Homo sapiens: one gene and its partners. The protein of the gene in region 2 interacts with the protein of the main gene of each other region in a pairwise test. Each region holds a gene or a part of one and is shown on either strand. Other genes may lie near its edges. The genes, in order: TM4SF18, TEX264, SLC10A2 and SLC34A2.

Region 1 (7,081 bases), about 98 Mb from region 2:
ACTGGAGAAGGGTCTAAAGAGGTAGCCTTGCTCAGAAGGCTAGTAATTCAGTCAGGAGTCTCACAACCCAATCCCGGATCTCAGAATGCCTCACACTGGCATTGTGCTGGGCTTATTGGGTTCCCAGCACCAGATGCAGATTAGGAGGTAGCAGGGCCCAGAAAGAAATACAGAAGAGGTCCAGAATTCTAATGGAGTAAAATGAGGGAATGTCTGTACCATTCACTGGGGGAAGTTAAATTTTCTTCTCAACTCTCCATGATTAGCTTTATTGTTCAAGGCCCATGTCCATCTGAGGTCTTACATGTGCATCTAGGCCTACATGGCAGAGCTGCTTCTGTGACTGTAGCTGCCTTCATTCTGAAGATTTTTACATGGTGCCATATACCATGACCTTTCTTAGCAAACATGACTCTCCCTCAGGTCTCTCCTACTTGCATATCCATTTATAGGCTCTCTGCAAGAAGAAAAATATGGCTCTTTTTGCCCAACCCCACAGGCAGTCAGACCTTATGGTTGTCTTCCCTTGTTCCCTAAAAATCTCTGTTATTCTGCTCTTTTTCAATGTGCACTGATTTCATATTGTTCAAACCACATGTTTTACAATCAATTTGTACAGTTAACACAATTATCACAGTGGTCCTGAGGTGGTGTACATCCTCAACTTATGAAGATAACAGGATTAAGAGATTAGAGTAAAAACAGGCATAAGAAATTATAAAAGTATTATTTGGGAACTGATAAATGTCCATGAAATCTTCACAATTCATGTTTCTCTGCCGCGGCTCCAGCCAGTCCCACCATTTGGGGTCCCCGACTTCCTGCAACATTGCAAGTCATCTTGTTTTAAATTGCTAGATGATCTGTGCAGAGCATGTACTAGGAACAGTCTAGAGGAGGGATCTGGAGGGACTCATTTCCCTGGCAGCTGAGATGGAGATAGGGGTAAATGGGGGTATGAGATAGGTTTAGGGAAATTTAACAGAAAGCCACATCTGTATTGTACTTTACAGGTTCCAAACTGTTTGTATACACATTCTTACCAAATATTCACAATAACTCTGGGGTTAGATATTTTAACCCCATTATCAAGATAAGAGTCTGGAGGGCCAGGCGCGGTGGCTCATGCCTGTAATCCCAGCACTTTGGGAGGGTGAGGCAGGCAGATCATGAGGTCAGGAGATCGAGACCATCCTGGCTCACACGGTGAAACCCCGTCTCTACTAAAAAAATACAAAAAATTAGCCGGGCGTGGTGGCGGGTGCCTGTAGCTACTTGGGAGGCTGAGGCAGGAGAATGGCGTGAACCAGGGAGGCGGAGCTTGCAGTGAGCGAAGATGCGCCACTGCACTCCAGCCTGGGCGACAGAGCAAGACTCCGTCTCAAAAAAAAAAAAAAAAGTCTGGAGGCCAGAGGGGTAAAGTTCTTTGCTCAACATCCTGCAGACCCAAATCCAGGAATTCTGATTTCATATTCTGTGCTCTTTCCCATTGGAGACAAGAGCCATTAACAATATAAAGAAATTCTCAGAGTGCCTCTATTTCCTGGAGCATTAGAAAGTAGAAAATAAATAAAGGTGGGGAAAGAGTAAAAAAGAAGGAAGTAGGAAAGAAATGGAAGAGGGAGAAAGAAAAACAAAGAGGCCATGGGGGTGATAAGGCAAGCACAACATTTATAACACACTAAGTATCTAGCTCAGTGCTATGCATAAGATATGTCCAATATGTGTATCTGAATGGTTTTTAAAATGTATTAATTCATATCTAATAACTATATATTTTAGTTATACAGTAATTTCTCAAACATACAAATGCTTGTAGCTTTCTTCCTTGGACCCAGTATGTAGATTTGGCCATGGGTCTCTCTCAGTTTCCTTACAGATTCTAGCATATGGATTCAGTGCCTGGAACCTGCACATGTTGTGGAGTGGAACATCATTTTATTTTCCATTCTCATAACCCTCAGTGGGCTTCAAGTGATCATCTGCCTCATCAGAGTAGTCATGCAACTATCCAAGATACTGTGTGGAAGCTATTCAGTGATCTTCCAGGTAACAGATTCTCATGGGCACCTGTAGCTCATCCATATTTCCCCCACTTCCCAGGATTCAATGAGGCTTTTTGAAAAGACTCTAGAATTCCATCACTTTCCCCCCATTTCTATTGCCCTCATCTTTATTCAAGCTCTAATATCTCAATTTTTTCTGATATCCCAATGTGTCTTGGCTTATCTATAAGGGTTGAATCAACTCAGTAATTGTAAAATCTGCATTTCTTGTTGTATGGTAAGGCTTCATAAGTGTTTTGAATGAGCAAAGTTTTAGTGTTCTACATAGAGATAACTCAAAGCATGATGAAATTTTACCATTTATCAAGAATTTCCCTGTTCATAAGTTAAGCAAAGGCTCAGAACCTTATCTCATTGAAATAACTTCTCTTCTGAATGCTGCTACATTCAACTAATGAACCTTTATCTCGAGTGCATAGGAGTGCTTTTGAAGAAGAAGGGAAATATGTATTTATCCCATTGAAACTACTTCTACTTCGTCTGCTAAAATACTAATGTTAATTTAGTTATGGTTGAAACTGCTATCAAGAAGTCCAGAGTGAAGAAAAATTATGAATTTAGATGGCTTGTATTTTGTTTAACAACAGAATGTGTAATACCTTTCCTAGCAATTTCTAAGAGATGTTTTTTCTGTTCTATCATATTTTGAATATGAAATATAAGTTTAAGTTGCTATCTGGATTACGGATTACTAATCAAGCCAAGTTTATAACTTTAATCACTTTGTTTTTCCTTTTTTCCTATAGCCTGGAATCATTTGAATAAGGACAAAATGTTTTCCATTATCAAGACATGGCCATCTATCTAAATATTATATCAACTGTGTAGACTTGAGGGCAATATTGAAATGATGGTGCTTTCTGCATTTGGTGTTTATTTGTAAAAAATTTGCAGTCCTCACTGCACATGCAAGTATACCACCCTTCCATTTAGTATGTTTTTTAAGTAATATGCATCAGAAACTTCAGAAATACTTCTGCCCTTTGATCAAACAAATCCATTTCCAAGAATCTGTACTAGGGAAGTAAATAAGAATATGAGAGAAACCTTTATGCAAATATGTATATTGCAACATTATTTAATATTCTGGAAAATTGGAAACACCCCAAAATTCTAAACTCAGAGGAAGGATTAAGTAAAGAGTGGTACATACTGTAAATGTTTTCTGATATTAAAAAAAAAATTAAATAAAAAATAAAGAGTACTACATGGTTGTAAAATTACAGTCATTACAAATGATGTTTTTAAAATTATGAATAATGCTACATCAAAAAGCAGGTTACAAATTCATGTTTACTATATAACTATTTAAAGCAAATGAAACACTAATAGTCAAAGTTTAGGATGAAAACTAAATCTAAAAGGAAATATAACAAAATGCCAATTATGCTTGGTTTGGGGCATTGATGACCCTTCTTCCCACTTTTCTATATTTTCCAAGATTTCTTTATTGAATATGTTTTACTATAAATATTTTCTAAACTCATATTTTCACTATTAAAATTTTTTTATTTTTCCAAACTTTAAGGCATATGCTCTTTCCACATTCCTCAACATTATTTGCAAACATCATGAAATGACACTTCCATCAACATTCAATGAGGAAAGTAGTGATATAGATGAGCCAAAAAGAGTTTTATATAAACTTATACAATCTAAACTCTTGCTCTTCCTTTCTGACTCCTGAGGGTGAGTGTGATGGACTAGAAGAGGTAGCCTTAAAATAAGTGAGCAGCTAGGGAACATGCTCAATGGGCAAGAGAAAATGACCACTGACCAGTCAATACCTGTGTCAGGGGGAGTTACCAGTACCTATATTTATTTTTAAAGTAATTAAAAAGTAGAACACTTACAAATTTTCCACCTATACATGCCATGTCTTCCTCGGGGACAGTAGCCACATCTTATATATTTCCCACCATGCATAGGACCCAGCACACAGTGAAGCCAGTAGGCACTCAGTGTTGAATGCTCATACCAGGTTTTCTGCTTCCTGTAGTTACCCTGCTGAGCACTGCTTCCATCACAGGTGCACTGGGCCTCAACACTTCTGCCATTTCCCCATTTGTCTCCTCCATGGACACTGTCAACAATGGTCTGTCAACACCTGCTCTGTGCCAAAGCCAGGGAGTAGGCTGGGGGGATACGGAAGAGAATATCTTTCTCCTTGATGCCTGCTGTGCCAACAGCCCCCTTTAAGCCTTGTTCACAGCCTTTGCTGAAACAAGCATCTTGAAAGCAAGCCATGTTATACACCGCATGACCTTCATGCTCTGGGCCCAGCTGACTGAACTGGGGCAGGCCCCAGAGTCATGGGCAGCCTATTGTCTTGCTAATGGCCTCTGACTTAGCCTGGAGTAAAACACTGTCCAAACAAGACTGGTGGTTATTCAAGCATAAGAATTTGAACTAGGAAGCCAAGAATGAAGCAACCGGACCATTACCATCAAAAAATGATTAAAGGATGAAGAAGGAAGCCAACATTCAGAGAGTATCTGGTTCATGTTAATAATGGTATCATATTAAAAGGAAGATACATGAACTTCTACTCCAAAAGCTCCTAAAACTGCCTTTGCCCACAATGAACAGTGTACCCTAGGCCTGGTTTCTGTTCTTGGATTCCTAGATAGTCTTTCTTCTTTGTCACTGTGCTGATCATTTCAGTAAACCCCCGACTAAATCAGTGCAGCTCTGTTTATTGCAACTAAAACGATCCAAATGAAGTCTCCCTTTTCTAGATGTTGGGTTGGAGGGATGCTAAGACAAAGATGCTTAGGCTCCAGAGTTTTACAGAGCTTCATTCAATAACACTCTACTTTCCAAAGAACTTAAATATGAGGTCTGAAGGACTTGGACCAAGAGGCAAACCCAAGCTACAGACACCATGTTGTACTCAGAGTGACCTCTCCCCTCTGACAGCCCAGGATTTCTCTATCAAGTCCATAAGCTAGTCATATCTAGGACCATCTTGTTAAAAATTCTCTCAAAGTCTCCTCAGCCCTCTTGTAAACAGACTTCTGGAAGGTCCACTTCATCAGTTTGTTATATACTTTCAGACTGTCTATCTCTTGTTTAGATTCAGCATGGCACCGTACGTTGAATGGACTGTTAATAGATGTTTGCTGAATGACTCCACCACAGCATTGGACACATCAGGGGTACAGCCAAATGCAGCATGATACCTCTATCAGGAAAATTAAATTTTAACACAGCCACCAAATATTCTATATTTGAAGAGTATATGCTAATCATGCAATTTTAAGTAAAAAAAAGCTGAATACAAAAAAAGCTGAATATGTGTTTTATATCCTCGTGAATTCAAAGTAAAAAGGAAAAAAAACTCAAAAACCAAATATATGTATGCAGTTTGAGCCCAAATTTTTAATTAAGTAACCATATAATTACATGTAGACATGTATAAACCTTGAGATATGTAAAGACCAGAAAAATATTTAAAAGTTAATAGTTACATCATCTGTGGTCACAACACCCTGAAAATGCCTAATATTGGAAACTTAAGCAGGATTGATCCAGGTTATTACTTGGATGGGAGACCAGATGCTATAGGCTGAAAAAAGAAAGCATAAGTACGCACAAGTTAATACTTAATAATTATCTCCTAATGATAGGACTATAAGTTCTATCTCTTTTCTTTACATTGTTCAGTATTTTCAAATTTCCCTTTGAAAATGTGTTATGTACTTGAATTATTAGAAAAAATAAATGTCATTTAAAAAGCAATGGTCCTCTAATTCTTTCTGTAAAATTCATTTAAGGAGTTAAAATAGAAAATATATATAGGTATGTATATGACTGGCCTTCTCTTACCCTTTCCAGAAATAATCTTTCCACTTTTTAATTCTGAGAGTATTATGAGCTAATCCTGATTGAGAATGATTTATGTTTTATGCATTTCTGCACTTATTATTTATCTACTGTTCTCCTTGCTTCTATCTCATTGTTATTTTCCTAACTTCTTAAATAGAATACCTAGCTTATTGATTTTCTAACTTTCTTTTTTTCTTAAAATAAGCACTTAAGACTAGACATTCTTTAATTACCACTTTGGCTGAATCTCACAAGTTTTAAAATGTTGCATTTTCCTTGTTTGGTTATAAATATTTTCTAGTTTTCTTTATGATTTATTTTTTGATCCATGAGATTTTTAATGTGCTTTAAAATTTCCAAGTATATGGCTGGGCGCAGTGGCTCATGCCTGTAATCCTAGCACTTTGGGAAGCCGAGGAGGGCAGATCACAAGGTCAGGAGTTCGAGACCAGCCTGGCCAACATAGTGAAACCTTGTCTCTACCAAAAATACAAAAAAATTAGCCGGGCATGGTAGTGGGTGCCTGTAATCCCAGCTACTCGGGAGGCTGAGGCGGGAGAATCGCTTGAACCCTGGAGGCGGAGGTTGCAGTGAGCCAAGATTGTGCCACTGCACTCCAGCCCGGATGACAGTGTGAGACTCCATCTCAAAACAAACAAACAAACAAACAAACAAACAAACAAACAAAAACTTTCCAAGCATATGAGTTTATGTTATATTTTTATGATTTGAACTCAATTGTATTATGATCGTAGAAAGTGGTCTGTGTGATTCCGATAATTTGAAAGTTTTTAAGATTTCTTTTATGATTACTTTTTGTAAATGTTCTATGTGCTGTAAAAGTATATGTTTTCTCCAAATATTGAGGGCGGAATTCTATATGCATACTAAAATTAGGTCAAGTTGTTAATTTTGTTCAGGTCTTCAATATTCTGTTTGGTTGTTTGCTTGATTTAGGGTTGCCGTGAGGATTAAATGAATATATAGAGAGAGTAATTTTATACTTTTATTGATATACATATCAGAAAACAGTATTTGGCCATGGATATGATTTATAAGTGGCCTATAGCACAGTGGAATAAAGATGTACTTTGGAGTCAAGTTGCTTGGGTTCAAATCTGGGCTCTGCCTTATTAGGTGTGTGACTTTGGTCAAGTTTACTTAACCTCTGTGTGCAACAGTTTCTG
Region 2 (8,442 bases):
GCCTGAGAAATACTCAACCAGCTGCAAGGAGGAGGGTGCTGGGATGAAACATGTTAAGGGTTTTCTCTCCCTATGCCTGGGTCGACCCTGAGAAACCCTTACCCACCCCACCCCCAATGACTGGTGCTTCCTGAGCCACAAGATAGCAAAAGGGGATGATGAGAGCACTCTGCTGGTGGTTGGGGTGCCCCAAACCAGTGCTGAGCCAGGTTGATGGCCCAAACTCCTTCTAACCTGCTCCTTCCACCCCCAATACATCCTCCAAGCAAGCAGCCCCTTCATCTGCCCTGTCCAGGAGCAACCCCTGGGTTCATCTCCCTGGATCAGAGGCACTGAATGCAGGCTGGGGTGGCAAGGAGGAACACATGGCTCAGGCTCGCTGTGTGCAGGAATCCAGACTGGGAGAAAGTGGATCTGCTACCCTTCCTGTATGATGGGGAGAGGGTCAGCTGTCAAACATCACAGAAGGTGAGGGGTTAGCCAGCTTCCCCAGCCACTGTCTCCATGGTGTTGGAGCCAAGCCAGGTGCAGCTGGGGTCTGCTTGGCGCCTGGACTCAGCCTGGGGCTTTCCTTGAGCCTCAAATGGGGCCTAGGTTGGGGGTGGGAGAATTAGGAGAGGGGGGAATTTGGGGTCTCTCCCTACCCCCACCACCCACTCAGCCCCCAGAATATGCCCTCTGGGCGCTACTGGCAGAGGTGAGGTGAGCCCTAGAAGCCCAGGCTGCTGGCCCAGGGCCCTCCTCTTGCTGAGGCCCCAGGTGTGGCTCCCAGGACAGAAGCCTGTGAATGAGGTGGTCAGGGAGCTGGGGGAGCTTTAAGTTTTGGGTAGTTTCTTCTGACCAGGGGACAGGATGCCAGGCCCTCACTGCTCCTTAAATAATGATCAGTGCCCCAGGGACCGCAGGCCTGAAAAGAGCAAAGGAGGGAGACAGTTTCTCCCTGGCCCTATTAAACTGTATGTTCTGTCTGCCCACCCACCCAATGGCTCTCTTGGGACCCCAGGTATAGGAATGTGCCTGCTTCCCAGCATGCTACCTCCTACCACCCAGCTCCTAGGCTAGGAATGTTCAGAGGAAGGAGCCTAGGGGTGCCTCCTTCAGGCCAGGACAGCCTGCTGAAATGAAGACAGCCCCTGGAGACATATATACACTTCAAGCAAAGGAATTCAGCTGGAGGCCAGGCACGGTGGCTCACGCCTGTAATCCCAGCACTTTGGGAAGCTGAGGCAGGTGGATCACATGAGGTCAGGAGTTCCAGACCAGCCTGGCCAACATGGCAAAACCCCATCTCTACTAAAAATACAAAAATTAGCCGGGCATGGTGGCAGGCACCTGTAATCCCAGCTACTCAGGAAGCTGAGGCAGGAGAATCGCTTGAACCCACGAGGTGGAGGTTGCAGTGAGCCAAGATCATGCCATTTCACTCCAGCCTGGGCAAAAAAGGAAAACTGTCTTTAAAAACAAACAAACAAAAAAAAGGAATCCAGCTGGGCATGGTGGCTCATCCCTAGAATCCCAACACTTTGGGAGGCTGAGGCAGGATCACTTGAGCTAACAAGTTCAAGGCCAGCCTGGGCAATATGGCGAAACACCATCTCTATAAAAAATACAAAAACTAGCCAAGCATGGTGGTACACGCCTCTTGTCACAGCTACTCAGGAGGCTGAGGTGGGAGGACAGCTTAAGCCTGGGAGGGAAAGGTTACAGTGAGCCGAGATCTTGCCACTGCACCACTCCAGCCTGGGCGATAGAGCCAGACCTTGCCGCAGAAGAAAAAAAAAAAAGGAATGCAATACGGGGAAGTAGCATCCCTATACCCCCACCAAGATCTACACAGGAGGAGGTCCCAGAGTCCCATGCCTGCATCCCTGGGCAGAAGATACCAGGCAAGGCAGGGCCCTACCTAAATCCCCACGACTACTGGGGCAGGGGACTTGAAGCCCACCCCCTTCACCCAAATCCCTCCCTCTCGCTCTGCCCACAGCCAGTGCAAGACGATCAAATATTCATCGCCTCTCTGAAGCTAAATAATACATCAATGTAATAACAGGCACAAGGCAGCTAATCACCCCCTTTCACCTCCCGGCCTAAGCTAGGGCCACAGCAGGGAGGCGGGCAGGGACAGGCCAAGCCTTGGGCAGTCAGACATCCTGCATGCACCCACCACCAACTGCTGTGTCAGTGGCATGCACCTGGTGGGCAAACACCGAGTCCCGCTGGGGTGTCAGGACAGGCCCTGTGAGAGGTGGGCAGACCCCTTGGCCCCAACACCAGGGAGTGGGTGGGCGGGCTGGAGGGGAGGAAAACAGGCTGAGGAGCTGGGGAATGTGGGAGCTGCCACTACAGCCAGCTGTAGTGGGTGCCAAGCAGTCCTTCAATGACCCTGACAGGCAGTGTTTGGGAGGGAAGGAAGCTGGGTGGGTGGGTCAAGGAGGGGGAGGCAGGCAGCAGAGGGAGGTCACAGTAAAGTGAAGGCACTCTGTCTTCCTGCCCTGGAGGCTGCCTGGGCCTGCTGACCTTGTGCCATGTCCTGTGCCCACAGTAGGGGCACTGAAGAGTGTCTGCCGGGCACTACCAGGCAGAAGGGAGCTGTACCCCATGGAGGTAATTAAGTGGCAGATGAAGTTAACTGTGTTGGACACAGGCCCCTAGGGAGTAGAGACTGCTCCCAATACCCTCCTACCCAGCCCTAGCTGACACGTCTCCCTAGGGTGACCTTGGCTGTTGAAGACTGGATGGGCAGAGCATCTGCTAAAGAAGGAGGAGAGGAGGGACAGTTCCTCTCCCCACAGCCCTGTACCACTCCTAGAAGTCACAAACTCCACCAGGTTGGCCAAGGATAAGGCCCCCTGGGACCATCTGGGATGTAACCCAGCAGACCCCCTTGTGCCTGAGACAGCCCGGGGTCACAGATCATTGCAGAGGGGTGGGCAGGCAAGCAGCCTTCCAGCCTGGACCTGGGGCCTTGAGGCTGCCAGCAGGAGTGTGGGCTGGCCCTGGAGAAAGGCACAGGTGACTGATCTCCTGGCTCCCCTCTGCATGCTCCCTGGTTGTTCCCTGGCAGGGAGAAAGCAGCTGGCTCTGGGTGGGGCCCGTACTGAGGGACAAGAGAACACTTTGCTCCCCTCCTTACCTTCCAGATCTATGCCAATCTTACTTCCTGCTGAGCCCCACCCAAGGGACTCCTTTCCTGAGCAGCCTCAGCCCCCTCCCATGAACATCGAGCTGTCTGTGATCTTTGTTTCCAAGGGTACTCCTGCTGCATCTGGAGGGAATCCAGGCAGGGTCTTTGTATCTGTGTTGCCAGGAGGTAATGTGTGTGAATCCACATCTATGTAGATCCATGTGTCTGGGAACAGGCAACTCCACATGTGGGTCCTCAGGTAGGTGGGTCTCCTTCCTCCCTCTGCCAAGCATAGCCTGACACCCACAGTGCCAACCCAGAGAGGGAGGAGCCTCCTCAACCAAGCCCCTGGAGTCCAGAAGAGAGGAGCTCCAGGAGGGCCCCATCCTCATACCCCACCTTCTGTACCTGTGCCATCCACCTGGGTGTCAATGGCCTCCACAAGCCCCCGCCATTTCCACTCTGTCTCCTTCATCTCAGGCACATAGAAGTCTCCCTGCCGTGCCAGTGGGCACATGAAATGGATCTGGTCTTCCTGGTAGATCTCCAGCCGAGGATAGGCACACAGCTTCCGCTCCTAGTCAGAGAGTGGCAAAAGGTAGAATGAGCCCTACAGGGCCCCTGACTCACTTGTCCCTGGGTGACCCCCAGAACTGTCTATTACCTATTCTGTCCCAGGGGCTGGCTCTGCCTCTCAACCTCTTCCAAGTTCCAAAGCCCTGCTGAGGGAGGCACACATAGATCACCCTAACAGCAGGGCCCCATAGTCCAGAGTGCAATAATAGTCTGAAGACCCAGGACGACACCCTAGGGCAGGTGGTAAAAGAACCCAGGAGCCTGGCACTGCTCTCCTATGTGTACATCTGAGACCAAAAAGCTGTTCCAGAAGGCACTGGTCTCACAGAGCCATGAAGCTTGGCACCCCTGGACCACCCCAGGATAGGGACCCCATGTGCCTAAGCCAAGGTCTCACCTACCAGACTTTCCATCCCAGGACCCCCTGGCCCTGACCTCCTCTCCACCCTGGACAACGCTGACTGACCCACAGATATCAGAAGACCAGCACCCCCAGTCCTTAGGCCTCCAGCCCCTGCTCTTGCAGACATGCTACTATAGACCCTGAACAAGGATCAAGGCCAGCTAAACACCACTTCCACTCCCATTCATTCCCCTGCTAGTTTAGAGCTATGTCAACCTCTGAGACTATCAGGTATGGTTCCCATACCTCCTCACATGTAAACTCAGGTTTTAGCTGATGGGGAAGAGGGAGACCCTGGACTGGAAGGTCAGGTAGGACAAGTAGATCTAGCACAGGACATTACCCAGTGGGCTGATGTACCACCTTTTGGGCCCCAAGTTCCAAAAGGCACTCCACCTCCCTCTGCCTAGACACAGAATCCAGTGCTCCCCATCCCCCAATGAGTATGGAGGGGCACAGACATGCCAGAGCCACCCTGAGGCAGGCAGGGACAGCCAGAACAGGGGTCAAGTTGCCTCTTACTCAGAGCCTGCCCCGCCACCTTTCCTGCGAAGGAGCACAAATACCCACTATGATGACTGCAAGGCCCCTGCCCTGTCACTGCTCACCCGCCAATCTTCACAACACGACTATTTATAGCATTCGCCCCGCTCTCACCATGAGCTCTGAAATGAGCCTTCCACTTAGCAGTAATGAGAGACTTATTGCCTGGCAAGGAGAAGCCACTCCAAGACTCCACTTGTCCACCTGCCTGGCCAACCCTAGGGTTGAGGAACCTCCTTCAACTAAAGCAAGCTAGCAAAGAAGGGTTAAAAGCAAGCCCACGGATGATAAAGGGAAAGAGGAGTGAGCCTGAAAGGTTTACCTAGCTAGGACCCTCAGCAGCCAGCTGAAGGGAGGGTGCATCTAGGAGGCCACGCGGGAGGTGGATGGCCTGTCCCAGGTCTGGCTGTGGCTCAGCCTCTGACTCCATGGGTGATCCAGGCAAAGCCTTCCATCCTAAGTCTCCATGTGCTCAACAGCAAAGTAGAACACCCTAGCCCTGATGCTTCCAAGGTCGGTGAAGGAAAGTCATTATTTTTTAATAGTTGGAGTCAAATCTTCTTTGCCAACCTGGGTGCCCTCGGGGCTTCCTCCATCTCAAGAGTCCATGCCCCTGACACGTCCCATTTCTAAACACACAGATGGCTGTCTTTGCTTCTCTACCCACTCACATACCCACTCCAGCCTTGGTCTCCAGGAGGAGGCTAAACAAGATCACAGTGTCAGGAAGCAGGAGCTGTCAGGCTCTGGGGCCCCTCCAATGCCAGCACTTAGAGGCAGGCATCTGCCAAACCTGAACCCAACTCAGCAAACTGGTCCAGGTCACTGAGGCCAGGGGCAGGGAGGCCCCTGAAGAAGGTCCAGGTCCTTCCCCAGTAGCTAGATGAAAGAAAAGGATCCCTGAATCTAGTCAGGGCATGGCCTTCACCAACATCCTCACACTCTGGACAAAGGACCCAAAGGGTAGTAGCTGAGTGGCCATCACAAGAGCAGCAGACATTTGGCTTTTGGGGGAAGATCCCAGAGGACAGAGCCTGTGTCCACCCAGAGATTCCAGGGACAATGGGGACCCTAGCCCAACCCCTCTCAACACTCAAGCCACCTCCCTAGCTTCCCTTCTGGAGGAACTTGGCCATAACAAGATAATAAGAGGGAGTACTGCTCTTTCCACCCTCTCCCCTAGGCTGGGCAGCACCAGGCTGCCACCCTGTGCCACCTGTTCTGCCAGCCCCCTCGTTGGCAGGCGGGAGGCAGCTCTGCGGCTGTTCTGCGCATCTGCTTCCTCCGGAGAGCCCGGCTCTGAAGTTGCCTGGCTGTGGACAGCCCCGTTGCCATGGAAACTGCATCCTCCATCCTTGCCGTCGCCTTCATCTCAAAGCCATCAGGGAGAACAGAGGATCAAGGGAGACAGAGGATGGAGAGAAAACTGTGGCCCTGCGACACAGCCCTTCCTTCTCTGCCCAGCTCTCCCTCCTCACAGCATCTCACACAGGGAGCACCAGGTCCCAGAGCCTGCTCCCAGACCCCTGGAGGGGCAGCCTCAGGCCCAAAACTAGCCTGGTCCTACCTGCTGTTACCTGGGGGCCCTGGTCCTCCCTACTGGAGGGAGGCATGGAGCTAATTAAAATGCCATTGACTGTTCAGCCCCAAATCATTATAGCACATGCACCAGGTCCTACCAAAATTCAGACTTGGGCAGAGAAGGGACAGGAAGAAGGCAAAGGAGCAAACTTCTAAGCCAGGCCCACAGGCAGAGAAGGGGCTTGTAGTTGCCCCCTGGCCCTTCCTGGGAGACTGCTCTCCCTTGCATGCTCTGCCCACTGAGCAAGAATGACTCTAGTGGGGGCTGGGGATGGAAGGTGAGGGGCAGGACAAGCTATATGCTCTGTCCCTGAGTGATCAGGCAGAGAGGACAAGCCCTTTCCCTCCCAGCCAGGTGCAACCTCGGAGGGAAGACAGGGTGACCATGGGCTGGCTCTCAGGTCCTTGCTGCACAGTAGGAGCCATGGCCCGGGCAATATGTCAATGAGCCAGTAAATATTGGAAAATCATTGGAGGAAGGCGAGGCCAGCTGCCTCTCCCTCAGTTAGCCCCAGGGAGCCCTTGGAGAGCAGACTGCCAGTGGCCAAGGACACTAGCTCAAGGTCACACTGGGCTGGTCCCACTGGTGAAGAGCCTGGGTGGGCCTGGGGTCCTCCTAGCCCTGGCACATCCCCTTCCACAGCCCAGACAGCCAGCAGTGTGTGGAAGCATTGCCAGGACATGAGAACGTGCTCTGCCACTGACACCACTGGCCATCTAACAAACCCACAGCCCAGAGCAGCTCACTCCCACACACAGACCCAAGGAGACTATAAAGCCTCTTTCCAAGGTGGGAGAGTTGCAGATGTTCACATTCCTCTCCACCTAACAGGCAAAAGTCAGTGAACCATGCCAAGGTGCCCCCAGGGTCTGCCAGAAACTGGATTCAGAGTTCCAGTCCCTCAGACACACCTCCGGGCCTTCCCTCCCACCTGGGTCTTCCACATGCAGAAACAAGATGGGGACTTGGGACACCACCCATGATGCAGGAATTTCTAAGAGACCCCAGACACCAGCACTTCCCCACCACCACCCCACCCTGCACCAACACCTGCTTACTCACTCAGGAGTGTTGGCAAAAAAGGGAAGGAGCAGCTCACCCACCTCACACAGGCTGCCACAGTGCCACTGCGTCAGCTACCTTGGGGACACACCACACACTCCCACCTCACTTCAGCCTGAGTTCATCTCCTGGGCAGGGTGCAGGCATTTACCCCATTCAGCTCAGGGCTCCCACAACAGGGCAAGACTGATACACCAGGCCAAGCTTTCCCCCACGGGACCCACAGTGCCTCCCCAGCAGGTCTTTCTGAATTATGGGAGAGGAAGAAAAGAGGTAAGAGAGAGGACCTGGACCTGAACTATCCTCATTTAGTGCTTTGTATTCAGGACATCACCCTGTGCCCTGGCTTCAGCTAGGGATTGGGAGCAAATAGAAGACAGAAGAGGTCAGGCCCAGGACGAAGGCTGATGATGGGTCCCACTCCCAGGCTACCCAGAGGCTGGAGGTTTGCTTAGAACTAGGTGGCTGCAAATGCCCAAAAGAAGGAGGCAATGTGTGGGCCAAGGACGGGTCACATCTCCTACATAAGCTCTAGGCCCAGCAAGGGATGAGGTCTGGCTGAGGGGCCCTGGGCCTTGCCTTACTGTTCACCCTGAGCTACCCAGTCCTATCTATCCTTCTGTGCCAGGCTGGATACCCAGGCAGCTGCACAGCCAGCAAGCAGCTGTTGCATCCCACCCGAGGTAGTGGCGTCTCCTCACTGGGTGAAGTGATGCATGCTCATTTTTAATTACAGACACCAACATGCACCTGCCTGCACACAGCAGTCCCTGCAAGTGGGGACTCAAACCCTGGAGGCCCCTCAGGCAGCTGGTCTTCATGGCACGTGCATGCTTTGGGGAGGTATAGCAAGAGGCTGCAGCTAGAAGGTAGCACGTTATTATTCTGCCCGGAAACTTTCCTCTCACCCCCACCAGGCTGCCCCAAAGCTTCTGGCCCAGAAGCCAGACCTGTCTGTTGGTGCTCTGGGGCCTTGCCACAGCAGCAGGGAGAGCCTGCAGAAGGGCTGGTGAGCACCTTCCCCTCTCTCTACTCTCCCCTCACACCAGCAGAGCCCAAAGCTCTGAAAATGGCAGGCAAAGGAGACAGGGAGTAAGACAGGATGGCCAGGGAGGGAAAAGAGGAAGCAGGAAGTGGCAGAGAGCACCCCAG
Region 3 (8,400 bases), on a different chromosome or scaffold from region 2:
GTGTCTGGGGAGAGAGCAGACAAAAAGGAGATAGGATGTTTCTGTGTCCTCTCAACTATGGGTTTTGGCCACAAGCAGATTCACCTGAAAAGTCACCATCTCTTCTCCCTGATGCTTTTTGTGCATGTGATGTCCATGGCACAGCTGCAACTTAGGTGAAAATATATGTGCACCAATCAGATTCACAAACTCCAGGCTGGGAGTGGTCAGAGAAGGAGCTGAAATAGTACTTGCTGGATTCCAATGATCAAGGACTATTGTCTATTTTTTTTTTGTTTTTCAAAGTCACTAGAGATTGCAAAATGCGGTGGCTTTCCAGGTTCATAAGAGATGACAGAGTGAGAGAGAAATGTTTTGGTTTCTTCTCCCAAGAACCATAACCAAGAGAGTTAAAACCAGGTGGAATGGTTTTGCTGGCATTGTGTGGCATTAGCTCAATTAGTGTAGCTGCCTGTTAACATAAACAGTCATGTCTTCATGCCATTGCTGGAGTTCAAGTGGAGATGGAGAAGGTAAAATTCTAAGTGTACACAACTGGAAATATAAATGTTAGATAGGATTGTATCTAAGTAAATTATCAGGAGACTTTAGTTATCCAGTTCTTAATCCAGAAGAATAAAAAGTTTTGGAAAACTGTTACGCAATAGCTCAGGTTTTACCCTTTTAATTAATTTGTATTAAAGAAATATTGGAATATTGTTTTCCTAACACACAATGCATAATGTCATCATCTTACATAGCAGTATAATTTAACCTCTTCTCAATGATTAAGACCGATCATGATAAACATGATTATCGGTTGTTCTAAAATACCGTGACATCTTCTTGTGTTTGTAGAAGAGTAAGTGATACAGAGACCAGAGACTGGAATAAGTGCTACAGAAACCAGAGAGAATAATTGATAATTAAGAGAGAATATGTGATAGAGAGAATAAGTGATAGAGGATAAATGATAGAGAGATGGCTGTGTGTTGTCAGTGTCTGCTTTGCTTTGCAGGCATTTGATCTTCTCTTTTGCCCTTCCTAACACTCTGCTTCCTTCCCCGCTTCTTATTTCTGGGAAATAGCACAACAGAACTTTAAAATAAAAATAGTTAAGTCGGTCCCGCATGAGGAGCATTTATGAGATTAAGTGAAATTTATTTTGGGTGTGCAGTGTCTTTTATTGGGTCTTGTTGAGCTCTGGATAGGTGAGGTTGCTCCATGTTGCGTTACAGGGCTTATTTTGACTTGCTGGAAGGATTCATTTGCACGGATTTAGCTGGAGGTTTCTACCAAAGCTTCATATTCTACTTTTAGTTCTTATTAAAAAAAATAATTTATAGGAATTGTTATGCTAGGTGGACAGGATTACATAATCATCTCCTGTTTCAAGAGAAATAAGATTTCCTTAAAACCACAGAAAAATGTAACTTGGAGCTTTTAGGTTAGATCTTACTGTTTTTAGCTCACAGAAGAGAATTCATTTCAACAACCTAATAGTCCAGTACCACACACGTTTTTTTTCTGTCTTATAAAAGGGTTCCATATGTGGTATTACATTGAGGTACAAAACTCCTCTGCACTAAAAGTTACAAATATTATGAGAAAGCTGTTTATTGGGGGTCAAGGCCCAATGTTCCAAGTAGTTCACTTTTCTCAGTGTAACAGGTGCTGGCATTTAGAATTCTCACTTCTGTGTACCTGTGTCCAGGTCAAACTAAATTGAGGTCTAAAAAGACCTTATTGCTATATCGTGGTTCACAGATTAACTAAACCTGAATAGCACTTGCCATCCTATGTTGTTTTATAGGGCTTTCCTTAAAAAAAAAAAAGCAATTGCAAGGTGGATATCATGTGTTTTCTTATGTGAAAGACTAAACCATATGAAGGTATAGGGTTTGTATGACTTTTCTAAAGCTTCTGGAGAAACCAGCACCAGTTGAAATGAGACAGCAGGTTCCTAATTGATCACTGGGTACTCTATCAATCCAGTGTTTACAATTCTACACTTTGTGCTTCTCTCCTCTGCCAATAGTAGCTGGGGATGAACAGAGCTAATTGCCTACTGTACAGTATTTAATAAGCACACGTTGCATTAGCACCTGGATGGTTTGCAGAAGGAAATGCATACCTTTCAAGGGAAATGAGGAATTGTGAGCTAAGGAAAAAGACATTTGTCTATTCAACTTTTAGCATTAAATTTCTCAATCTAGTCACATTAATGCTTCATCTTATTTCTATTAGTTTTTTTTTCCAGTGCTAGTTCAGACTGGCACGGGATGAAATGGGCAAACATTGCAATTTAGATTACTCTGTAGGAAGTGGAGAAAACGTTTTCTGTTTATTTTGTAGTAAGGTAAGCATAATTTTAAAAAAGCTGCTATAGGCTTTTTCCCCCACTTTTAATGCCAGTAGAGGTGAAGCAAATTTACAAATTCTTCCTTAGGTTTTATACCAGGAAAATGTTTGCCCAAAGAACTGGCTATATTTGATGGAGTTGACCACTGTCTCACTACAGGTTCTAATGTTTGACAAACAGTTTTATTTTATGATTGCACCCAGAGCTCCTCATCATTACAAAGAAAGTGTATTTTGCTTTTTTTTTCCTGCTACCAACAGGATAAACCTCCTCAGCTGCAGCTTGTGGTTTGGAAAAGATTACTTTTTTAAAAAAGCTTTGAATCTTTTCCTAGAGATCAACAGCAATTATGCAACTCCCTGTTAACTGAGTTAGATTTAAAAACACAAACACAAAATATAAATCCCCCAATTCCAATAGCTAAGCAGCTGTGCTAGAAGGCACGGGAATGCATTTATTCTCTCCTGTTTGATTCCTTAGTCATACTTTAGATGCGTGGCAAATCAGTTGGACATTCAGAATGCCATAGGCTTCTGGAAGGATTACTCCAAGGTGATTGCAGTAGTTAGAGGTATAGATAATCTTACCTCAGGTCCATGTCGCCATCGACCCAATAGGCCAAGATATTGGAGGCAGTTCCTCCAGGGCAGCATCCTATAATGAGCACCACTACGGCCTGGAGCGGGAGGATGTCAAAGGCCACCGACAGGATGAATCCTGTGAGGGGCATGATTCCAAACTGACAGAGGAAGCCAACACAAATGCCCCACGGCCGCTTTATGTGCCCTAGAAATTTCTTGATTTCCACGTTGCATCCCATGGAGAACATCACCAAGGCCAACAGGATGGTCAGCACCGTACTTAGGACCACACTTAGGATGTTATTGAAATTGCTCTCAGGTACCACACAGGATGCACCAGAGCAAACTGTTGCATTGTCCACACAGCTGTTCGGATCATTCATTGCTGGGTCTGCTGCTGGAAAGGCCAAGTCCACAGAAGCGCTGGTCCCTGGGCCCTGGCTCTGCTGCTGGTTGAGTTAAGCAACGTTTACTTCTACCCCATCAAACTTTTAAACCCCTCCTAAAAATATGTCACTTGGTGTCTCTTTTGAAAGCCACCTTAGGGAAGTAATAAAAAACAATAAAGCTAGGATGTCAGTTTCAAGAGGTAGCATTACAACACAGAGCACGTTGTGAATCACAAAAGTCCAGCAAAATTATTGGTCAAGACAGAGAGTTACGATTAATCATTTATTGGCATGATAATGAACCATGCCATATAAAAAGAGCCACGTTAATGTTTAATGTCCTCGAGGGTTTGTTGGATAATTTCAGTTAAGTGACTTTTAAAATCAACTCTGAATAGTACAGAATCTTATAGGGATTGAGCCATAGGAACCATGCCATATAAAAAGAGCTGTGTTAATGTTTCATGCCATGAAGGTTTGTTGGATAATTTCAGTTAAGTGACACTTAAAATCAACTCTGAATAGTACAGAATCTTATAGGGACTGAGCCATAGGAACACATATTGTTCTCCCATTTCCCTTTCAATAGAAGGGTTTAGGGCCCTGAATAGTTGAGTGCCCTGTGCCTAATTATGTTGCAAATCAGGTGTCAGACTCTGAACTGGGACCCAGATCTCCATCCAATTTCCACTCCCAGTAGTTTTGCTACTGTATCAGTGTTTCCTGGAATTGCTTTGTAGTGTCCATAAAGTATATGGAAATTTAAGAAACTTCTAGGGTCTTGGTGCAAATCTGAGAGAGTAACATTTGGGAAGATAGAATGTTTTCTGTGTTTCCTGGTGGAAAGGAGTCTGACTTGCACAGCCACCCTCAACTACTTACACATGCAATTATGTGTGCGTTGTCATAGTAACAGAGTACTTTATAGATGGAGACAATACAATTATTTAGAGGGATGAACCTCAGAGAATTAGGTCAAAGTGACAGGATCTCTTTGTGCTTGGAGTCATAAATTGAAATTCGATTTTTTTTTTTTTGGCAGGGGGATTCCAAGAGAGATTTTTGTAAATGTCAAATAGTCGACCTCATGCTGGGCAGAACGCTGTATTTCAGTATACAGGGAAGATAAAGAAAGAGGTAGAGAAGAGATTGTCCTGTTTTCAGGAGTTTATAACCCAGTTATTGAGTTAGGACACAGAGTAATAATAAAATTGAATATTCCGATCATGATTCACAATTTGTAGGACAAATTCTAATTTATTATTCAACTTAATCATCTTAAATTAAGTAGGATTAGCACTCCCATTTTACAGATGACGACTTAAGGGTTGAGGAAATTGAGTGCTTTAGATAAGGTTAAAGGGAAATGAGAGAACAACGTGTTTTCCTATGGCTGGTATCTGGAAATACTGGAACCGAGCGTTCTGATTATGTGAAGAAAGTGGTCGGTTTGGCTTGCTGGGGATTGGAGTAATATCTTAGAACAGAGCTTCTCAAAACTCAGTGTGAACAGGATTCCCCTGGGGGCCTTGTTAAAATGCAAATTCTGATTCTGGAAGTCTAGGGAGAGTTTTCTTTCTAGCAAGCTTGTAGTTGATGGCGATGACACTGATCTGGGGTCACACTTTTAGTATCATGGCTTCAGAATAGCAGAGTGACAACAGTTGTACCCATATTGGTGACAACGGAACTTACCGGTCACAACTGAAAGCAGCTTTTGCAGAGAAACTCAATATGGGAAAATTAACCTTTTTCATAACTGGAGTAAATGTGAGCTGTGGCTAGCAGAATGGGCCACTGAGCAGAAGAGCTAATAGAGTGAAATGCCCAAACCACAGGTGGGGGTGCCTAGGCATTGAGCTACTGGGAAAAACCTGAGCCATTTCCTTCCAGGGCAACCGTGATTTGTACTTGTTGATGTGGCTATCTGAGTGGTCACGTCCTGCCTGCCTTTCTAGCACAAGTGGGGGCTGCCATTGTCCCTGACCTGGCTGCCTGCCAATTCCTGGGAGAGCCTTCTGTCTTTCCCACCTCCTTCCCCACCCCAACAGCTAAATGATAAACCAGGTAATATCCAAAGAGGCCTCCCCTCCCACTCCTAGGTGTATCATGACTTGGCCCTACCCTGCTGGCTGCTCCAAGCATTTCCTGGGACTGACCTCTGGCCTACTTCTGTCGGGAGCTGGCCCTCCCCAGGGCAGATGAGCCAAGTGCACTCCCTGCTGCCACACCTGAGCATCTGCACCTAGCCGCTCACACCTGGGCACCTGCACCTGAGCACCTGTGGCTGGCTCTTCCCCCAACTCCCAAAGGTGGGTGAGGCAGATGCCCATGCAGTGGTGATCAGTTTACGGTCTCTCTTTTCTGATTTCTCTTAACCTCAAACATTAGGTGAAAGGCAGAAAGCTAGCCTAGGATTGAACGGCAAATAGCCTCTTCACCAGGTCTGATCTGCAAAGGAAAATTTGAGCCCTGCAGGCGGGAAGGATTTGGATTCTGAAATTTCTCTTAAAGTTGGAAGGCTGCAGTGCAAGGCCCAATGCACAGGGCTCAAGACAAGCATATTTAGACACCCTCCTTTGAACTCAAATGGGTTTCCCAGGGCAGGCCTCCTGTTTTGGGCCATGGCTGCTTCTGGGTTGGCCAGGTGTGATCCATACTTAGGCTTTTTGCTCACAGTGCTGGAAGCAGGGAAGAAAAGTGAAGGGAGCAGAAAGCAGGTTCAGAACAAAGCTCTTCTCAAATTTCAGATGACTTTCTAAGGAGATTTTAGGCTCCCAGGGGCAGAATGCTTTGCATATAGACAACTTGCAAATGAGCAGTCTGTTTGACTAGACAGAGTGCTACAGTTCTGCTTAAAAAAAAGTGCCAATGCATTTCTAATTTCACATTGTTTTTACATAAATTTGCACATTAGGCTTGAGAGGTTTTATATTCAAGTATCGGAATGATTCACAATTAATTAGTACCCTTAACTTCAGCTATATTCAAATCCAGACACTGAAAGTATCTAAATATATAAAAATCATTCTCAGGAAACAACAGGTGCTGGAGAGGATGTGGAGAAATAGGAACACTTTTACACTGTTGGTGGGACTGTAAACTAGTTCAACCATTGTGGAAGTCAGTGTGGCGATTCCTCAGGGATCTAGAACTAGAAATACCATTTGACCCAGCCATCCCATTTTACTGGGTATATACCCAAAGGACTATAAATCATGCTGCTATAAAGACACATACACACGTAAGTTTATGGCAGCACTATTCACAATAGCAAAGACTTGGAACCAGCCCAAATGTCCAACAATGATAGACTGGATTAAGAAAATGTGGCACATATACACCATGGAATACTATGCAGCCATACAAAATGATGAGTTCATGTCCTTTGTAGGGACGTGGATGAAATTGGAAATCATCATTCTCAGTAAACTATCGCAAGAACAAAAAACCAAACACCGCATATTCTCACTCATAGGTGGGAATTGAACAATGAGATCACATGGACACAGGAAGGGGAACATCACACTCTGGGGACTGTTGTGGGGTGGGGGGAGGGGGGAGGGATAGCTTTAGGAGATATACCTAATGCTAAATGACGAGTTAATGGGTGCAGCACACCAGCATGGCACATGTATACATATGTAACTAACCTGCACATTGTGCACATGTACCCTAAAACTTAAAGTAAAATAATAATAAAATTAAAAAAAATAAAAAATCATTCTCTTTAATTGTAATACGGAATTGGAAACAGATGCACACCTGAGAGGGGTAGTCAGGAGGCTGGAGCTTCATTTTCGTCGTCATCCTTCTCAGTCTTTTCTGCTACATTTTGTCACACCCTGGGCTCACATGCAGGCCACCCTCAAGAAACCAGGAGCCGGTTCCTGCTTCTGGCCGCCTGGGCGCAGACATGAGAATTTGACATCTGAGGCTTCCCTTTTGTTCCTGTGTATCAATTTGAGGAGGCCAGGGTTCAATAGCTTTCTAGCATGTTTGCCCTGAGGTTCACATGATAAAAGATGAGCTTCCTATCTTCTATTGTGTTTCATCACAAATGGCTCTATTCAGATCAATGGCCCTCTTGGATTTGATTGACTCTGTTAAGTACTTTCCTGTGACTGAAGTTATCTCCCTCTCTCTCCTCTCTAGTTCCTTTCTACAGATTGATCTTTTATGAAACCTGAAAGTCCCACAATTAGAGCTCTTTGGAGTTACCACTGACCCTCTTTAAGGCAACAAGTACCTTGGGGAGAATGCCCCGTGAATGACTAGCTATTCATTCTTGAGTCTTTAGAGGGAAAAGGCAGCATAGTATTGAGGAGAAGAAAGTAGGATAGAAGAACCTGGAATCTACTGGATGGAAAATGCACTAGGCTTGGAATCAGAACTGGGTTCTAGATCTGCTTCTTTTGAAAATACTGTGCAGACTATTCAGGTTTTTATGAATGAATGTGAATCCTTATTAAACATCTGTAGGATGGTCCCACCACTTTGGAAAATGATTATAGCTAAATGTCCATATGCCCTCCGACCCAGCCATTCCAGTCCTAGGTTTCAATCTAAAGAAATCTATAAATTAAGTTCCCCAAGAGACATGAACTAGAATGTTCACAGTGACTCCATTCATAATAGCGTCAAACTGGAATCTATCCAAATGTCCATCAAGGGTAGAATAGGTAAATATATTGTGGTATATTCACACGATGGACTTCTATACATCAGCTGGATGAGTAATCTACTACCACAAATCTAATGTTGAGTGAAAGAAACCAGAAACTAAAGAACACATACAAAAACAGGCAAAGCAAATCTATGGTGTTAGAAGTTAGGATAGTCGTTACCTTGGCAGTATGGAAGATCAGAGACTAGGAGGGGTCACAAGTACCAATACTTCAATATAAAGTAAACAAAAACAAAAACAAAAATCAACCTGACACATTTGATAAGAAGAGATTGGGGAGTGGTCTGTGCCCATGCCTAGAGAAGGCAGGAAATGACACTAAACTTGAGAAGAAGTCAGGAGAGAATAAAGGCTGGGAGTAGAGATGGGAGGAGAAGTTGGGGGGTAGGGCTAGGAGGTGGG
Region 4 (8,442 bases), on a different chromosome or scaffold from region 2:
CAAGAGGGAAACACATTGTAGCTGGGGCAAGATACCAAGACAATGGTGGCAAGGCCTGGACATATTCAGAGTGAATTCCTCCCCCGTCCTTCCCACCCTCAGATAGACAGGAGAGTGTCTGGAATGCAGGTGGGCTCATGGGTGCCCCGACTCACATGAAGAGGACACCATGCTGACAACGATGGACGTTGAGGTGCTGGAGCTCTGCACCAAGACGGTCACCAGCACCCCGATCACCAGCCCCAACAAAGGGTTGGACATAATAGAGCTGTTGCTGAAGAACTGTCCTGCCATTTTTCCTGGGAAAAACAAACAAACAAACAAAAACAATCACAACGTGATCGAGGGGGATTAGGTGGGCACTGAGTAAACAGAAGTCTCCATCCAAGGCCAGCTGGCTGTGGGTTGCAGAGTCCAGCCTCCATCGCTGCAGGCACCCAAGGAATCTTGCTTCCCCATGCCTCTTCCCAGTGCTGCCCCGATAAGGCAGGAAATCTACTAGCTGCCCACACGTGCCTCCTGTCTCTGTCTCTCTGCCCTGGTTCCCGACCCACTGTGAGCCCCTGGTTACTTTTGTTCCTTCACCCTGCATCCTCCCACTCTTCAAACACTCCTCAGTCAGCAAGCCCTTCTGTGCTCAGGAACCCAGCCTCAACTCCATACTGGGACCAGTGGGTTCCAATGAGCCTCCTGGATGTCTCTGGGGTGTATACCCAATTCAGATTTATCCTCCAAGAGTAGATCTCTCTATCCACCCTTAGCCCTAGCACCAGCCTGTAATTGAATGCTGGGAGAGTTATTCTCAAGAGTGTACCTGAGACCATCAATGCATTCCCAAGTCCATTGTATAAAGAAGGTGGAAGCCCAGAGGATGCAGGTGATTTGTCTGAGATAACCAGACAGCAAAGCCCCTAGCTGATGCTCCCATGGACCAGGGAGCCCAGAAGCAATGTTCAGGAGGCCAGGCACGGTGGCTCACACCTGTAATCCCAGCACTTCGGGAGGCGGAGGACGGGCGGAACAACTGAGGTCAGTAGTTGCAGACCAGCCTGACCAACACGGAGAAACCCCGTCTCTACTAAAAATACAAAAATTAGCCAGGCATGGTGGTGCATGCCTGTAATCCCAGCTACTCAGGAGGCTGAGGCAGAAGAATCGCTTGAAGCCGGGAGGTGGAGGTCGCGGTGAGCTGAGATCACGCCAATGCACTCCAGCCCGGGCAACAAGAGTGAAACTCTGTCTCAAAAAAAAAAAAAAAAAAAAGCAATGTCCAGGAAGTGTTTGCCCCTCATGCTCTCCCATGAATGCCCACCTCCCCAACTCTCCCAAGTCACACAGATGGGTTCCCAAGAAAGGCACCAAGGGTTGCAGAAATCCATGGTCCTTTGTGTCACCCAGATCTGAGACTGAATCTTACTCTGCTAATCACAGGCTGTGAGTCTCAGGGCTGGTTCATGATCTCTCCGTAAATGGGAGGGCTCTGGGAAAGAATGTTTGATAGAGGGCCCCCGAAAATGCCTGCACCCAGTAGACGGAGTGCTGCTTGTTTGTTTCTGACATCACCATTGAGGTACAAAGGGAACCAAGCACATGGTGACTTCACTCCTGGGTTCTCACACTGCATGGGCACACGCAGCCCTAAGGGCTGTGAAGGTAAGTACAATGGATGCAGATTCCTCCAGCCCAGAGAAGGGGCCCTGTCCTTCCCCCAGCAAGGGCCCATATTTGAAAGGGCACTCTTTCTCATTCCAGAATTCTCTCTGGTGTGGAGGATATAGGAATTCCTCAGCTAAGTCTGTATGTCAGACAACTTCCTGCCTGGGGTTTGTGGACAAACTCAACTGGCGGATAGCTTGGAATAGTCTAGCCCCAGCTCCTGGCCTAAGCCACCTGGGCCAAGTCATAGCCCTTTGTATAGGCCTCAGTTTTCTCTTCTATAACGGAAAGCATAGACTTCATAAATGATCTGAGGTCGGTTCCAGTCCTAAAACACTCCAGGAGGCTGCAGCTGGAGAGGGCTTGCTGAGTTTTACTCTCGGAACCACATTTCAAGATAATGCCCCTCACCCGCAGACCTCTCACCCTTTCATTCTTACCTCCAACCAGCTGGAAGGCGCTACTAAGAATATCCAGGGAGCACACGAAAAAGTAGAGAAATCCGAGAAGTAAAATCAATCTCCCAATCCCTTGGAAGAAACAGAGAATCTTCCCTTTGGTGTCTCTCTCTGCAGGGGGGTGGGATGGGGGGAGAGAGAGAAAGGCATGAAACTTTTAGTGTTGGAAACCCTGAGAAGTTTGGCAATGAGCTCAGAGCTCCCCCGACCTCCCCTCCCTTCCCAGCCTGGCAGCCGTTAAGTTCTTATGTCTAGCCAGCCTTACAGATGGGAAGCAGCCATCGCTGCAGCTTTCAAAGCAGTTACCGCTGTGGTCCATTTAGCTGAAACCCCTGGTAAAGTGCCTCTAAAGGATTTGCGTTTGGGAGGAGGGGTTCAATGTGGTCTGCGACAGAAAAACCAGGCTCCATGCTCAGCTGAGCCACAGTGTCACTGAGTGAGGCAGTTGACAGCACTAGCCACCTGCTAAGTGCAGGGTCGGAGATAATGGCTGTCACGTTCCAAACAGCACAGAGTATTTTCTAGAATGCAGCTGCACAGCAGCAATCAGCCTCAATTTATGGAGGGCTTGGGGCATCATACATCCTGGGATGCTACATCCTTAAGTGCTGTTTACTCCACTGGCTTTTAAAATGGTTCTCATCTTCCCCCTCCCAGCTCTTTCCTTCCTACCTCTCCTCCCCACCCCACACCCCAATCTCCTTTTTCCTCCTTGCTGTCTAGTTCACAGACAGACCTTCTGCCCTACATACATTTGGAAATGAAACAGTGATTGCTTGCATCCAGCTGTCTGGCTGCATATTTTCTTTTACTAGAAATATGCCCACATTTTGGTGAGGGGACCCCTCTGAAAGCTCTCTGAGAAGAGGGGCCTTTTCTGTTCATCACTGTATCCACAGCATCTCCAAAGCAGTACCTGGAACCTCATCACCCACAGCGAATTATAAGGAGCCAGACAATGTCCATCTTTGCTATAACCACAGTGCCTGGCACATTTGTTGAATGAATGACCCCCAATTACTCCAACATGCTTTGACTCTACCTCAAAGATGGGAGGGTGGCCGGGTGCTGTGGCTCATGCCTGTAATCTCAGCACTTTGGAAGGTCGAGGAGGGTGGATCACGAGGTCAGGAGTTCGAGACCAGCCTGGCCAACATGGTGAAACCCCATCTCTATTAAAAATACAAAAATTAGCCTGTAATCCCAGCTACTCAGGAGGCTGAGGCAGGATAACTGCTTGAACCCACGGGGCAGAGCTTGCAGTGAGCCAATATCGCACCACTGCACTCCAGCCTGGGTGACAGAGCAAGACTCCGTCTAAAAAAAAAAAGATGAGAGGGTGACATCCCTAGCCAGGACCCTTGCTTCAAGGGAATCAGAACAATGAAAAGGGGGAGGGACAGGAGGATGATGACACCGTGAACCACAGGAAGTTTCCCTCCTGAATGTCTCAGCTGGCCTCACTTTTACCTGACCACTTGATCCCCGAGTCCTGAAGAGTGGGTAGGTTCCAGGGGTCATCCACCTCAGTGGGCTCATCTATCAGTGTAGCCGTGGAGTAGGACGGCAGAAGTTCAATCTTGGTTACAGGTGCCTCAGTGTTATCTGCTGAAACAAGCAAAAGGGGTAATGAGGAATCAGACCTGAGTCTCCTGGGGTCCTCACAAAGGCCGATCTGCAGACAAACGAGCGACACTTACTTTTGTTGGTCTCTTTGCTTTTATCAGGGGCAGTGGGCTGCTGACCTGCGGCCCCTTCGAGGTACTTATCGGGGTTGGGCTGGGCATCTCCCAATTCAGGCCAGGGAGCCATGGTCTGTGGATGAGAAAACAGCTTAAAGCAGCAGTCATGGAAAGGAGGCACACCGAGATGCTATAAGAGGAAGAACCATTGGTTGCAAAGCATCAACTGGGTGGGGGTTTCGGCCGGAGGCGGCAGTAAAAGGAAGGGAAAGATTTCACACTTATGCCCCCTAAGTGTGGCATATTAAGCACCATATTTCCTCTGTGGTTCCCCTTCAAACACTCACCCAGTCGCTAAAGCAAACTACCTCGTACAGTGTTGAGTTAGCTGCATGTACCACCTTTAATCTCGTAAACTTGTTTTTGTCTTGACTCTCTCCTTCAGTCAAAAGCAGGGTGCAACGGGCACCGTGGCTCACGCCTGTAATCCCAGCACTTTGGGAGGCCAAGACAGGTGGATCACCTGAGGTCAGGAGTTTGAGACCAGCCTTGACAACATGGTGAAACCCCATCTCTACTAAAAATATAAAAATTAGCCGGCGTGGTGGCACACGCCTATAGTCCCAGCTACTCGGGAGGCTGAGACAGGAGAATCGCTTGAACCTGGGAGGCAGAGGTTGCAGTGAGCTGAGATTGTGCCATTGCACTCCAGCCTGGGTGACAAAAGTGAAACTCCTTCTCAAAAAAAAAAAAAAAGAAAAAGGCAGGGTGCAAGCCCATTCATCTTTGTTGTCTCATAGCATGCCAAATCCTCACAACCCTTCAATGGAACCCCATCTACTTCTTATATCAAGACAAGTGCACTGCAAATCTATGCAAAACCTTATCCAGTGGAATTTAACAGATTTATACAACTTAGTGTGTATGTGAATATATATGCAGGGGCCAGGCGAGGTGGCTCAGGCCTGTAACTCCAACACCTTAGGAGGCCAAGGTGGGTGGGTCACCTGAGGTCAGAAGTTCGAGACCAGCCTGGGCAACGTGTCAAAACCCTGTCTCTACTAAAAATACAAAAATTAGCAGGGGATGGTGGTGGGTGCCTGTAATCCCAGCTACTTAGGAGGCTGAGGCATGAGAATTGCTTGAACCTGGGAGGCGGAGGTTGTAGTGAACTGAGATCATGCCACTGTATTCCAGCCTGGGGGATACAGAGCAAAACTCTGTCTCAAAATATATAAGTATATGCAGGTGTTCATATACCTTCTGCGTGTTTTACCTACCACCCAGGCCTTCTGTGAAAAGAGTGATGGACCTGGTTTTAAAATCCAGCAGTGCCACCTATTAATGAGTGTGTATTTAGGCAAGTCCCTTTATGCCTCTGAGCATAAAGTGTCAGTTTCTCCATCTATAAAATGGAACAGTTCTTGCAGGGTTATGAGACTAATAGTGAAATTAAAAGTCTAGAAAGTGACTGGCATTGAGGAGGCATCCAATAAATAGCAGCAATTATTACTATGTCATGCTGTCTGGATTAATCATCCTTTGTTAGAACCACATTCTTTTCAGCCTTCAGAAAAGACCTTCTTACAATCTATTTTCTTCACAAGGCCTTTCTCAGTTACATGGTACTTGACACACCTCACATTCCAGTCCTTGCAGTCCTTGTTCTTTGACATTAGACAATTAGTCCTTGTCCATTAGACAAAGCAGTCCAAAAGATTGGAGAAAGGCAATTCACAGAAAAGGAACAAATGGCTAAAATGCCTATTAAAAAAGAAGCAATCCAGGCCGGGCACAGTGGCTCATGCCTGTAAACCCAACACTTTGGGAAGCCGAGGCAGGTGGATCATCTGAGGTCAGGAGTTAGAGACCAGCCTGGACAACATGGTGAAACCCCGTCTCTACTAAAAATACAAAATTAGCCAGGCGTGGTGGCATGCACCTGTAATTCCAGCTACTCGGGAGGCTGAGGCAGGAGAATCACTTGAATCTGGGAGGTGGAGGTTGCAGTGAGCTGAGATCACATCATTGCACCCCAGCCTGGGCAAAAAGAGTGAAACTCCGTCTCAAAAAAACAGAAGCAATCCCATATATTCAAACTAAAACAGTGACAACTATCAAAGTAGCAAAAAGAATTTAAGTTCATTATGCTATGCTGGAGAAGATGTTATGAGTTGAACACTGCTAGAAGCTCTGGAAAAGTTAGCAAACTGTCCAAAGTGCCTTATGTTCATCACACGTCTGTGACCCAGTCATTTCACTTCTAGGAATCAGGAAGCTAGGAATATTTCCTCTCAGAAATTCAGAAATACCTAACTTACTCTGATCACCTCTTCCAAGAGGGCTTCTTAGAGCCTGAGTCCACCTGACTCCTTTCTTCGTCAACCTATTTCCTGCTTACCAGACTGCAAACCCTACCAAAAAGTGGACTTTGTCTTGTCCATCACTTCATCTTTAAGGTCTTGAGCCCTGCCGGGCATATTTATGATAGAATGAATGTGATGTAGACCAAAAAGATATTTGCTGCTCTATCATTTACAGTGTGAAAAAATGAAAAAAGAGAAATTACTCCTTCTAACTATGGTATGTCCATGCATTGTAAGAGCATGCCATTAAAGAGGTTATACTGAATCAGTAAAACCATAGGGAAATGCTTTAGATAAACTTCACATCTAAAGCACTTCTTTTTCCCATTCACAGCATCATCTCAACAAGGCAGACAAGATCCAGAAATGTTCTCTGGAGGTAAAAGGGAGTGGTGAGACTGTGGGTGATTTTTTAAATTTTAGAAGAAAATTATTTTAAAAGATGCAACTCAACCTCTAAGCTCACAAAGGTAAGATGGCTCAGTGATACCTGGAGAGAGGCGAATCACAGTGAGGGAGGGCTGGCTCTGCAGAGGCCTGCCCCTCACTATATGCAACCCTGAGCCACTCTGAGCTTCAGCTTCATCATTGTAAAAATGGGGACAATACCATCTTGCTTACTGAGCTGTTATGAGGACTAATTGGTTAATAAGTGTAGGTGAGGCTAGAGCATGGTGCCTGGCAGAGTAAACACTCGGAACTCTTGTTTATTGTTCATGACACAATGTGGAAATGCACTGTGTCATGAACAATAAACAAGAGTGTTTATTACGTGGAAATGCACTGTGTCATGAACAGTAAATGGCCTCATTTCCACTGTGTGTACCCTAGACTATAAGCTCTTCATCTCCAATGCTCAGCATGGTAGTGGATCTCAGTTAATATTTGAATAAATGAATCCAAAGCCTGTGAGAGAAAGATGCTAATGTTTGTTTTGTGGCAGAGGAGTGTCCTATACAGTTTGTGACCTCATTAAATCTACCAAGGAAGGAGTTTTTCTTCTCAGTGTACAGACAAAGAAACTGAGGCACAGAGAAACAAAGAAGCTTGCCTCCAACTACCTGGAGCTGGTGTCAGGATATGAACCCAAGACTGCTGGCTCCAAAGCCAGAAGCTTTTCCACAGATCTCACAGCCAGGGGCAAAGGGAGGAGAAATTCTCCAGCCCTCAAAGCACCAGGGCACCCAGGGGCCTTAGGTCTAGGCACATTGAGGGCTCTGAGTGTTTTCGGATAGCTGGCTAGATTGGCATGTCTGCAGGTCACTCCCACATGATCATTCAGATGCTGGAAATGCCCGCCCAAGAATGTTGCAATGGATGAGCAGGAGGGGAGGGTGGTGGGGGTGGGGTGGGTGGGTGGGGGTGGGTATTAAATGGTGCAGGCAGAGAATGTACCCTGGAGCTCTGAGCCCCTCTAAGCCTTTCTCCTACCCCCATAGCCCTGGCGCAACCACTGCCTTGTTCTCTCCCAGCCTTCCCAAGGCCTCACTCCAGCACATTCTTGCCACCTGCCAGAAGCAGCAGAGGAAGGGAGAAGTCATCATTTGGAAGCTTTTTACTAAAGCCCAGGGAGGGGCTCCCCCGCTGCCACACTGGCCTCTATAACCGAGTTGCCTGTGTGCCTCACCCTCTTGGCTCCACTTCCTGCACCACATGGGCACCCACTGCCAGAAAGAGCTCTTATTCTTTCTTGAAGACCCAGGAGAGGAACTTTCTTGACTTGGCTCAGACTTGGGAAGCAGGGGAATGTAGGGTACCTGGCAGTCACCCAACCCCTACATTCGCATTGTTTGGGCTTCTCCAACCAAGACCTGTTCCTGGGCCCCTTGTGCCCAGAGCAGCAGTCAAGGCCATCTGAAGAAATGGGGAGAGGAGGAAGCCCAGGGCAGTGGTCCTGTGAGGAACCAGAACATGGACACACAGTCTCCCATCAGAATGGCAGCCTTCACAAGCACAGGGACTAGAGTATGGCCATTGTATCCCCAGCACATAGGACAGTGCTGGGCACATGGTAGCCAAGTAGTGTTTATTAAAGACTTTGTGCCTGGCACTTGCAAATTGGTGCACAAATTTACTCACAGCATTTCATGTATCTATGTAAACTTAGAGTCTCCTTTAAAATGAACAGTATCCTCATTCTATAGAGGGAAAAACTGAGCCACAGAGAGGTTAATGGCTTCAAATCACATAGGCACCACAACACTGCAGAGATAATTTCAACCTCATGCAGGCCAGTGTTCTCGGGATGCCCAGGAAAACTTTCTTGTACTTTGAAAGAAT

What was found.
Region 1: the proteins of TEX264 (region 2) and TM4SF18 interact in binary tests that used the Homo sapiens proteins (3 or more experiments, as listed by UniProt).
Region 3: the proteins of TEX264 (region 2) and SLC10A2 interact in binary tests that used the Homo sapiens proteins (3 or more experiments, as listed by UniProt).
Region 4: the proteins of TEX264 (region 2) and SLC34A2 interact in binary tests that used the Homo sapiens proteins (3 or more experiments, as listed by UniProt).

The regions. Positions count from the first base shown.
Region 1 is NC_000003.12:149,317,224-149,324,304, reverse strand, and holds the end of TM4SF18 (transmembrane 4 L6 family member 18), read left to right. Parts: intron 1-1,868; coding exon 1,869-2,049; intron 2,050-2,812; coding exon 2,813-2,827; 3' UTR 2,828-5,807; downstream 5,808-7,081.
Region 2 is NC_000003.12:51,694,665-51,703,106, reverse strand, and holds part of TEX264 (testis-expressed protein 264), read right to left. Parts: intron 3,702-8,442; coding exon 3,533-3,701; intron 1-3,532. UniProt on the Homo sapiens protein: Major reticulophagy (also called ER-phagy) receptor that acts independently of other candidate reticulophagy receptors to remodel subdomains of the endoplasmic reticulum into autophagosomes upon nutrient stress, which then fuse with lysosomes for endoplasmic reticulum turnover.
Region 3 is NC_000013.11:103,062,945-103,071,344, forward strand, and holds the start of SLC10A2 (ileal sodium/bile acid cotransporter), read right to left. Parts: upstream 3,474-8,400; 5' UTR 3,306-3,473; coding exon 2,929-3,305; intron 1-2,928. UniProt on the Homo sapiens protein: Plays a critical role in the sodium-dependent reabsorption of bile acids from the lumen of the small intestine. Transports various bile acids, unconjugated or conjugated, such as cholate and taurocholate.
Region 4 is NC_000004.12:25,657,985-25,666,426, reverse strand, and holds part of SLC34A2 (sodium-dependent phosphate transport protein 2B), read right to left. Parts: intron 3,930-8,442; 5' UTR 3,927-3,929; coding exon 3,815-3,926; intron 3,723-3,814; coding exon 3,585-3,722; intron 2,226-3,584; coding exon 2,097-2,225; intron 300-2,096; coding exon 156-299; intron 1-155. UniProt on the Homo sapiens protein: Involved in actively transporting phosphate into cells via Na(+) cotransport.